3 linked regions of the Homo sapiens genome follow. The protein of the gene in region 1 purifies or fractionates together with the protein of each later gene. This does not show direct contact. Each region holds a gene or a part of one and is shown in the gene's direction. Other genes may lie near its edges. The genes, in order: ADORA1, UFD1 and BRI3BP.

Region 1 (3,652 bases):
GTTTCCTTTCCCACGTGTAAGGATAGGTGAGCTTCTCTCCTGGCCTTGGGAGGCAGCCCTTCCTGTGAGAGCCTGCCCCACCTCAGCCAAGGTCTTGGGTCCAGCCCTTTCCCACCAGGGAGAAAATAGCAAGAAAAACAGATGAGAGCTGATACCCTAAGCTGCAGGGTCTGCTGGGACTGGGTCCTGGAGGAGCCCCAGGAAAGCTTTAACCCCGGGGGCTCTGGGTGGTCAGAAGGGTGAGGGGTGAGGAGAGAAGAGGGGAGGGACCCACTTCTGTAGCTAGAAGTCTCCTCCCTCTCTCCTGTCTAGGGCTATCACTGTCTACCTCTCCTCTCTCCATAGGTCATCACTGCCCTGATGTCAGTCCCAGGCTAGATCCCCCAATCCATAGGCTGGACGGCAGCACCAGAGGTCACCTACCCCACCCCACTGACTCTGGGTGGTGCCTTCCTTGGGCAGAGTCTTGAAGTTCCCCTTTTAAATCTCTTAGGCAAGGGATATTTTCAACCTGCCAATCATCTGCATCTCAACAACCCACAGTCAGCCTGGCACCCTGAAGAAGAGCTGGGCTTGGAGTCAGGAGACCCAGGCCAGTGGAGCTTCTAATTTATGAAATGGGGATTCCCTTATCTGCTGTGCTCACCACAGCAGCAGTTATGAGGATTACCTGAGACAGGACTGAGAAAGGGATTTGTAAATGATAAATGTGGTATAAATGGCAGATGTGATGGGTGGTGGGGGTAGGCAGGACACCTGGCCCCGTCCTCTCTGCAGTGGCAGCTCGCTTTCCCTGCTGAGGTTCACCTGGGGATCTGGCCCCACTCTCCGCTGTGTGGCTGCTGAGACAGCATCCCTCAGCCTTCAGAATGACCTATGTTCCTTTGGTCTTTGCCCGTAGACTCATGCCCAGAACTTTTTCCACCATATCTGAGAGGACACCATATCTGTGGGGAACACATTGAGATGGTCAGGAACAAGATGTGAGCAAGATGTTTAAATAGCCCTTAGGCTGTGTTTGCTGAGCATCCAGAGATACTGGAGTTTTCCAGGTGGCCATTTGTCTGGGAGCTTGGAGGGGTAAGAAGAGCTCAGGCAAAGGAATACTGGTCGGATGTTTACAGAGTACTTGCACACGTAGTATCTCATTTGATCCTCCCCCTCTGAAGTAGGTCTCTTTTACAGAGGAGACATTGATCTAGCAAGTTGCAGACTGGCAGCCCGAGTTTGGGTCTTCTCACTCCCAGTGTCTGCACCAGGCCTGGCCATTCTGCTGAGGGTACAGAGGAGGGAATGGGCTTCAATTTCAGCAAGAGAGTGAGGATTGTATCTAAGAAAACTTCAGAGGCACAAGTGCACTGGTCACCTCTCAAGGCCCCTTGGTGGTGGTGGTTTGGGGCACAAGAATCCTATGATCACAGAGTAGGAGAGGGGAACTGCTCCAAAGGTGTTGGAGTCATCTAGTCCTCAATTTCTTCACTGGGACAATGAAGGGATAGAAAATGAGATTCCAAAGGTCTCTTCTAGTCCTTATCTTCTAGATGGGGTGGAGAGGGGCATCTGGTTCCTCCCACTGGGCAAATTGTCTCCCTTCCTACCCCTATAGCCTTCACAGAGCAGGTGGGCTTTGATGGATGGTGAAGGATCTAGGAGAAGCGTTGTCCGGGGCGAGACAGACTTTAAGCATCATCACCATGCAGGAGAAAGCCGCAGATTCTGCATCCCTGGGGCGGAAGGAAACAGTCGGCAGCCTCTCCCTTCACACTCCTGGGTCTCAGGAGCTATTTACATGCTCAGGAGGGCACTCCATCCATTTCAGAAGCCGCATTGGAAAATAACAACTGGGCAAGCTGCTGCTGCTCAGCTGGCTTCTCAGCACAGAGCTGGGTGAGACCCAGCCCTTGGCACTGTCTCCAAGGCCAGTATGTGGGCAGAAGCCATGATGGCTGCTGGCTAGATTGGTTTAAAGGGAAGTAGGAACCCCTGAGATATGAAAACGCCCAACCCTTGTGGCTCACGAGCAGCCTCGTCATCCAGATGTTTCTATCTTCTTTGTGGGTCATGACCTGAAAAAAGTTAGAAAGCTCTGGCCCTTGACTCAACCTATTTCCTTTAAAGGACATATCATGATCTATAGTTGTCTTGTTTATTTTCTTGCTTTTGTGTTATCTGTCTCTTCACCCAAAATGTGAGATATGTAGAAGCAGGGATCTTTTATCTTATTCTCAGCACAGGGAGCAATGCCTAGCACAGAAAGCACTCGACAAATGCTTGCTGAATGAATGCATCCACGTATGCATGCGTAAATGCATGAATGAATGACTGAAAGTATCTAGCATGTAGTAGATGCTCAGTGAATATCAGTTTTCTTTCCTGAGCATCATTCCCAGTTAGCTTGGGAGTGCAGAGCTGGTTCTTGAGATCAAGCCCTTAGGAGGTAAGTGCTGCACAGTGATTGGAAGGGGAAACAGGAGGTTCATATGGAGGTGGGAGATGGGGCATGGCAGGGGAGTATGGGACAAGGCCAAGGGAAGGGGGGTTGTGTGAAAGATTTTTTAAAATGACAGTTGTGTCTGCTGGCCCAAGAGAAGGGATGGTTTGTTAATCACTTGGGTGTTTCGGTCAGTGTAGACGTGTTTTAGGAAGCACGGAACAGCACTGCCACCTTCCATGTGGCCTTGGGCAGATCCTGTGATTACTTTGAACCTCAGTTTCCTCATCTGCCAATTGGGCAGTCCTCATTCTGCCGGTGACTTCCTACGCGACAAAGGCTGTCATGAAGCAATGATGAGATAACCAGTGGGGGCATGCTGAGCACATGGGAGCAATTTTTACTGTGGTCATTTCCTTGAAATTCATAAAGGAGCTCCTCTGTGATTTTCTATTATTATTTTTGTCATTAATCAGGATTTCCTCTCTCTGTAGGAGAATAAGCCAATGCATGGCAAGCACTAAATCTTAGATCCTGAAGACTCAGCCCTCGAGCAAAAGACATGCACCTCCCCACTCACCGGGCCCTGGAAGAGGAGGGTGCTCCTCTTAGAGGCCCCTGGAGGCCAGGCGTGCCTCAGAGGGGCCTTTCGAGGCAGCTGGGAGGCAGATCCTCACACTCTGCCCTCCTCTCCCCCAGGTACAAGATGGTGGTGACCCCCCGGAGGGCGGCGGTGGCCATAGCCGGCTGCTGGATCCTCTCCTTCGTGGTGGGACTGACCCCTATGTTTGGCTGGAACAATCTGAGTGCGGTGGAGCGGGCCTGGGCAGCCAACGGCAGCATGGGGGAGCCCGTGATCAAGTGCGAGTTCGAGAAGGTCATCAGCATGGAGTACATGGTCTACTTCAACTTCTTTGTGTGGGTGCTGCCCCCGCTTCTCCTCATGGTCCTCATCTACCTGGAGGTCTTCTACCTAATCCGCAAGCAGCTCAACAAGAAGGTGTCGGCCTCCTCCGGCGACCCGCAGAAGTACTATGGGAAGGAGCTGAAGATCGCCAAGTCGCTGGCCCTCATCCTCTTCCTCTTTGCCCTCAGCTGGCTGCCTTTGCACATCCTCAACTGCATCACCCTCTTCTGCCCGTCCTGCCACAAGCCCAGCATCCTTACCTACATTGCCATCTTCCTCACGCACGGCAACTCGGCCATGAACCCCATTGTCTA
Region 2 (3,043 bases), on another chromosome or scaffold:
TACCTCAGATGTGCTTCTGTTGCTGGGTCCGGGGACCCACAGCAGACCCTTCCTCTGGTGGCCATGATGGCAGGGGCAGGGCTGAGGTGTGTCAGTTGTCTGTTGTGTGTGTGAAATCAGAATACTGGAGTGAGAGTCTAGCCACCTCAGGGGGTTCTGTGAAGCTCAGGACAGTGACAGTGAGGGCTTCCCAATCCTTCAGATGACCCCTCTCCATAGACAGGTACAGAGCCTAAAGCCCCTGGCCCTATACCCAATATTGATACCAAACCAAGAAGTCAGTTACTTTCTGCTTCCCTCCTGGGAGGATGCCAGGAAGCACCAAAGGGCCCAGGTGGGGTGCAGCAGCATCTTTTCTGCGTTCCTCTTGACTGTCAAAAATGAATTTTAGTCCTTTTTTCCTGGAAATAACATTTCTCTGTCTCTGTCTCTTCTTACAGAGGAATTCCCAATTATGAATTTAAACTTGGTAAGATAACTTTCATCAGAAATTCACGTCCCCTTGTCAAAAAGGTTGAAGAGGTGAGTGTATTTCCTTGTATTTCCTTGGTTGGTAATGAGGAGATTTATTTGCTAGTGATGACTGAAGTTCTTGGCATTCTGAGTAGGGGTGTGCATTAGTCTGTTTCCAAGCTGCTGGTAAAGATGTACCCGAGACTGGGCAATTTACAAAAGAAAGAGGTTTAATGGACTTACAGTTCACATGGCTGGGGAGGCCTCACAATCATGGCAGGGGGCAAGTCACATCTTACATGGATGGTAGCAGGCAGAGAAAAAGCTGGTGCAGGGAAACACCTACTTATAAAACCATCAGATCTCATGAGACTTATTCACTATCATGATAACAGCACGGAAAAGACCCGCCCTCATGACTCAGTTACCTCCCACCGACTCAGTTACCTCCCACCTGGTCCCTCCCACAACACGTGGTAATTCAAGATGAGATTTGGGTGGGGACGCAGCCAAACCACATGAGGGTGTCTGTCATGTTTTCCCTTTCCTAGGGTCCCTCTGCTCCCTGGTGTCCTGTTTTTTTCTGTAGAGCTGGTGTAGGGTGTATGAAACAGAAGACTTGCAGCATGGGGGTCAGGAGCTCTGTCTTGCTCTAGAGCCGACTCCAGGCTCTGTTATCACAGAACTGTGTGCCCTGGGTGGGCTTCGTCTTCCAACAGAGACCTTGAACTTCAAATATAGGCAGCACCTTCTAGCTGAGCAGGGTGGTGGCGGGACAGAGGAAGGCAAGGGCTGAGCATCCTGTAGACATGGGCACTTTGTGGGAATATGGCCAGGCCTGGCAGCAACTGGAACGCAGTCACCTCTTTGTGATGAGGATTTCTACAACACCAGCGCTTCAGACCCATCGCTCTCCTGGTTCCTTTTCTCAAAGGATTGGACCCTTGAGGATCCAGGATCAGGGCAGAGGGCAGATGTACTGAGCCACCCATTCAGGACCAGCTGCTACATGGGAGCCATCCCAATTACTGAACTCTTTTCTCTAGCACTTGGGGTGGTTGGGGACAGAGACCACTGTGAAGTTTGCACACCTGGTCCTACTCACAACCACTTCTGGGCTCAATGTTCAAGTTGAAACAGCATTGGGCATTGGGACCTTTCAGGCTCAGAGGAGCAAACATAGTGGCCAGTCAGACCTCACCCTCCAGCTCCTCCTTCAGGCACCATCCAGGCTTCACCAGCTACAGGCTGCCTTTCTCACTAAAAGCCAGTGCCTGACTCCGACCTAAGACCTTAGCATGGGACGTCCCCCAGGCTGACTGTGACCTGACTGTTGCAAATTTACAGAAGGCAGGGGAGGCCAGTGGGCACAGCAGGCCTGTTTGACCATAAATATGTATTTAAGAAGTATATGTTTAAAGATGGGATTGAAGACATATTTAGCTCTATTCCATCCTGCAGCCCCACTAAGGCTGTGGCTAAAGGTCATGAGGTAAGAAAGACAGTGGAAGAGGAGGCAACTACAAGGCTTTGGAAGCCCCAGGTACCTTAGTAGACCATAGAAAGCCTAGAAGCAGTTCTGTGTAGATTGTGGAATTCTCAAAAGGCACCTCTAGAAATGAGGGACTAAAGACAGAATTCTGTTACTAAGCAGTTAGAGCTGCATTACCCTCCCTCCCCCATCCCAGAAGGCTGGAGGCTCGACTCCAGTAGGTCTCTAGACTACTATCTCTGAAGTGAAGGCCACAGTCAGAAAGCTTTCCATTCCAGCATCTAAATAATAGAGGATTTGTGGGAAGAACAGCCACAGAAACCAAAGGAGCAGAAATCATCAGGGAAATAGTTTCCCCAAAGATGGGCACAATTTTGCAGATTTGAAGGGCTCACTGAGTTCCAGCAAAATGAATGAAAATAGCCCCACTTTGAGGCAAAGAAAGATCCTAAAGCTTCTAGAGAGAGAACAGAGGTATCACCATGCATTAAGGACATCATCAGCCAAGCGCCATGGCTCACACCTGTAATCCCAACACTTTGGGAGGCTGATGCGGGAAGATCATCTGAGCCCAGGAGTTTGAGACCAGCCTGGGCAATATAGGGAGACCCTGTCTCTACAGAAAATTTTAAAAATTAGCCAAGCATGGTGGCACGCACCTATAGTCCCAGCTACTTTAATGCTGAGTTGGGAGCATCACTTGAGCCTGGGAGGTGGAGGCTGCTGTGAGCTGAGATCACACCACTGCACTCCAGCCTGGGTAACAGTAAGTCCCTGTCTCCCAAAAAAAGGGACATCATCTTAGCAGGACACAGAGGAAACTAGAAGATAGTGGAGCAATATACTCAAAATTCTGAGGGGAAATTTTTTCCAACCTAAAATTCTGTACCAACTCTTATGAGCTGGATTGTGTCCCTCCAGTGTTTCTGTGTTGAAGCCCTAACCCCCAGTAACTCAGATAGGGCCATTTAAAGAAGCAATTAAGTTAAAATAAGACCATTAGAGTTGGCCATAATTCAATCTGGTGTCCTTTTAAGAAGAGGAAATTTGGACATAGGAAGGGCCATGTGAGGACACAGCAAGAAGGCAGCCATCTGC
Region 3 (3,652 bases), on another chromosome or scaffold:
TCCTGGCCAACATGGAGAAACCCCATCTCTACTGAAAATACAAAATTAGCTGGGCATGGTGGCGCATGCCTGTAGTCGCAGCTACTCGAGAGGCTGAGGCAGGAGAATCACTTGAACCTGGGAGGAGGAGGTTGCAGTGAGCCGAGATCGTGCCACTTGCACTCCAGCCTGGCGACAAAGCGAGACTCCAAATAAAATAAAATTAAATTAAAACATAAAATACTGTAGCTGCCCGGGTGTGGTGGCTCACGCCTATAATCCCAGCACTTTGGGAGGCCGGGGTGGGCAGATCACCTGAGGTCAGGAGTTCAAGACCAGCCTGGCCAACATGGTGAAACCCCGTCTCTACTAAAAATATGAAAATTACCTGAGTGTGATGGTGCGTGCCTGTAGTACCAGCTACTCGGGAGGCTGAGGTGGGAGGATTGCTTGAACTTGGGAGGTGGAGGCTGCAGTGAGCCGAGATCATACCACTGCACTCCAGCCGGAGTGACAGAGCGAGACCCTGTCTTAAAAAAAAAAAAAAAAAAAAAAAGCTGTAGCCAATTCACGGAGGCATTTACCCTTCACACGTGAGCCGAGTGGCCCATGTAGGTGGGTTCTATTATGGCAGCACTCTGCGTGATGCAGCCCTGCAGAGTCCCAGCCCCCATAGATACCTTGGTCAGCCCTTACAAGGGAAGGGGCGTGTTTTACTCAGTTTTGCTCAGTTGTTGGGCTGTCATCAATTAGTATCAAGTTCAAGTTAATCCCCTGGGCCAGTAGACCACTTGGTGGCATTCATCATGGGCTCGCTGTTTTTTCCCCTGTAATAGCCAAGGCTGGAAACCATGTAGGTATCCATGAGTATGGGCCTGGCTCCAGGTGTACCATGTTTAAAAAGGATGAGGCAGCTCTGTGTGGTCTGAGTGTGAGTATCTCCAAGACAGAGTGTTGCATGAGCAAAGCAGCTCAGCTGTACACCTGTGCTGCCATTGCAGAAAGAATATGTCTGTGCCATTATTCACCTGGCACGTCTAAGGAAGGGTTCCTCCGGAGGGGGATTCCAGTTGCCAGGAAATGAGAGGGAAGGCTTAGTCTCCACTGAATACCTGTTGGTAGGCTTGAGTTTTATGCTACATGTATACAATATCACTAATTTTTTAAAAAAAAAAGTTAAAATGAGGCTGTACCTTGTATTCATGTTTCTTTAGCCCTGTGTCACCTGGAGGGCAAATAAAGACCTCAGAGGCTCAGGGTCCTTAGAGTTGGATAGAGCATGGGGCTGTATCATTACCAGCTTCCTTGGAGCAGAAACTTCCACTCTTTAAAAATGAGAAACCCGCAGGGTGCGGTGCAGTGTTTCACGCCTATAATCCCAGGACTTTGGGAGGGCCAGGCAGGAGGACTGCTTGAGGCTTAGAGTTTGAGACCAGCCTGGACAACATAGCAAGAGCCCATCTCTACAAAATAATAATAAAGCCTGGTGTGGTGGCTGCACCTGTAGCCCTAGCTACTTGGGAAGCTAAGGCAGGATTGCTTGAGCCCGGGAGTTTGAGGGTGCAGTGAGCTATCATTGCACCACTGCACTCCAGCCTGGTCAACAGTGAGACCCTGTCTCTTTAGAGAAATCAGGCAGAGGAAGGCAGAGATCCTGACCCAAGAGGAAGCATGAAAGACAGCAGGAGCAATGGCAAGCGGCGTAACGCGGCCCTGCAGAGAGTCCCAGCCTCCATAGGTGCCTTGTTCAGCCCTTGCAAGGAAGGGGTCGTTTTCACCAGTTTTTCTCAGTTAGGCTGTGATCAGTACCCAGTTCAAGTCAATCCCCTGGGCCAGTAGTCCACATGTGTGGTATTCATCATGGGCTCACTATTTTTCCCTTCCCAGGTATAAACTCCCAAGCTCCCCAGTTCACTGCTTGACTGATGGAGGAAAACAGTGATTGGGTGATGACCGTTTTCTTGTTTCTGCAGTTCTTGGCCAGGCTGACTGAGAGATTTGTGCTGGGAGTGGATATGTTCGTGGAGACACTGTGGAAAGTCTGGACCGAGCTCTTGGATGTTCTTGGACTTGACGGTAGGTGTAGGGGTGGCATTCACGTAAGGTGTCATTCTATTTTGGTGGTTCTCATAGTGTGGAACTGGTACTCACAGTGAGTAATACATGAGAAGGTTGCGGAGGGCTGGTCAGTGAGGATATGAGTGAACATTTTTTATTTTAATAGTCTCATATATAGGCCAGGCATGGTGGCTCATGCCTGTAATCCCAGCACTTTGGGAGACCAAGGTGGGAGGGTTGCTTGAACCCAAGAATTCAAGACCAGCCTGGGCAACATGGTGAGATCCCATCTCTATAAAAAAAAAGTACAAAAAAATTGCTGGGTGCAGTGATGTGCACCTGTAGTCCCCATCCACTTGGGAGGCTGAGGCAGGAGGATTGCCTGAGATGAGGAATTCGAGGCTGCAGTGAGCTATGATCATGCCACTGTACTCCAGACTGGACGACAGAGCAAGACTCCTCTCAAATAATCATAAAAATAAAAAACAAATGGCCCATCAAAGCTGAGATTTCCCAGATGCCACTTAGGATAAGGTGCGACTGGGTAGTGGGAGTGCCAATTTGTGTGCAAAACACATGGACCAGAGGTATAGTGCTCTGGCTTACTGGCATCCGTGCAAGAAATGACTAGTTATTTAGGCAGAAGGGGATTTCATGAGACAGAGACACTCACAGAACCATCAGAAAGGCTGAGGAAGAGATGCATGGCCTCAGACACTGCCGAACTGGCTGTCCAGGGTTGCAGCTGTTGAAACCGTTGAGTTCGAAGTCACACAACTGTAGTATAATTTGAGGACCAGGAGGCCACTGCTGCCGCCACAACAACTAGACTTTGCATGTGGGTGCAGGGACCCTTGCCATTTCTGGAACCATGCATATCAGCTGCAACACTTCACTTAATTTCCAAAGTCGTGTGTGTATGGGGGAACTGCCAGGTGGAACTTACTTTCTGTCCAGTCCCTAGCTGCGAGGGAGGCAGGCTAATGCGGTTCTTAGCTCTCCAGCTTCTGCCATCCAGGAAGGCAGCCTGGGAGCAGGTGTCACCTGATGCTGCACCAGCCCATCCACCATACCCACCGCACAGGGCAAGAATTGCCAGGGGAGCTGGCCCCTGGTTTTGTGGGCTAGGGGAGGAGGGTAGTCCAGTTTGATAGTGCAGTGCTAGTCACACGTTTATAATCAGGAAGAGAACATTGGTGAGGCACGGCCCCTCCCTTTCTACATGTGGGAGGGGGCACTGATACTGGTCTTGGCGGATGGCAAGGCAGCAACGGTCATGGTAACTGAGCTGGGCACTCCTAGTCCAGTCCTGCAGCCTGTGCTACCCCCAGCCTTACACTCCCCTTCCCAGGTGGCTCTGCCCCACCTCCACCTGCATTCCATCGGTGGGTGACAGGAGCTAACCCGGGCAGAGTGCCCAGGGTGTACAGCTTTTATACCCAGAGGAGACCTTGTCCCTTACCGCCTTAAGAGCTTCAGAGGCATCCCATGCTCTCAGGATGAAGTAACCTTCCCGTTTTCTCTACCGTGCCCCATGGTGTGCCAGGTAAACAGGGATCTCCTAGCTGCCCCCGCTCCACTGCTCTCCTTCTGTCCACAAGGTGGAGGCCGCTCT

What was found.
Region 2: the proteins of ADORA1 (region 1) and UFD1 purify together in Homo sapiens (affinity purification with mass spectrometry; one large-scale study listed by BioGRID and IntAct). This does not show direct contact.
Region 3: the proteins of ADORA1 (region 1) and BRI3BP purify together in Homo sapiens (affinity purification with mass spectrometry; one large-scale study listed by BioGRID and IntAct). This does not show direct contact.

The regions. Positions count from the first base shown.
Region 1 is NC_000001.11:203,162,131-203,165,782, forward strand, and holds part of ADORA1 (adenosine receptor A1), read left to right. Parts: intron 1-2,925; exon of another isoform or gene 2,926-2,993; coding exon of another isoform or gene 2,994-3,130; coding exon 3,131-3,652. UniProt on the Homo sapiens protein: Receptor for adenosine. The activity of this receptor is mediated by G proteins which inhibit adenylyl cyclase.
Region 2 is NC_000022.11:19,452,228-19,455,270, reverse strand, and holds part of UFD1 (ubiquitin recognition factor in ER-associated degradation protein 1), read left to right. Parts: intron 1-440; coding exon 441-522; intron 523-3,043. UniProt on the Homo sapiens protein: Essential component of the ubiquitin-dependent proteolytic pathway which degrades ubiquitin fusion proteins.
Region 3 is NC_000012.12:125,010,582-125,014,233, forward strand, and holds part of BRI3BP (BRI3-binding protein precursor), read left to right. Parts: intron 1-1,952; coding exon 1,953-2,055; intron 2,056-3,652. UniProt on the Homo sapiens protein: Involved in tumorigenesis and may function by stabilizing p53/TP53.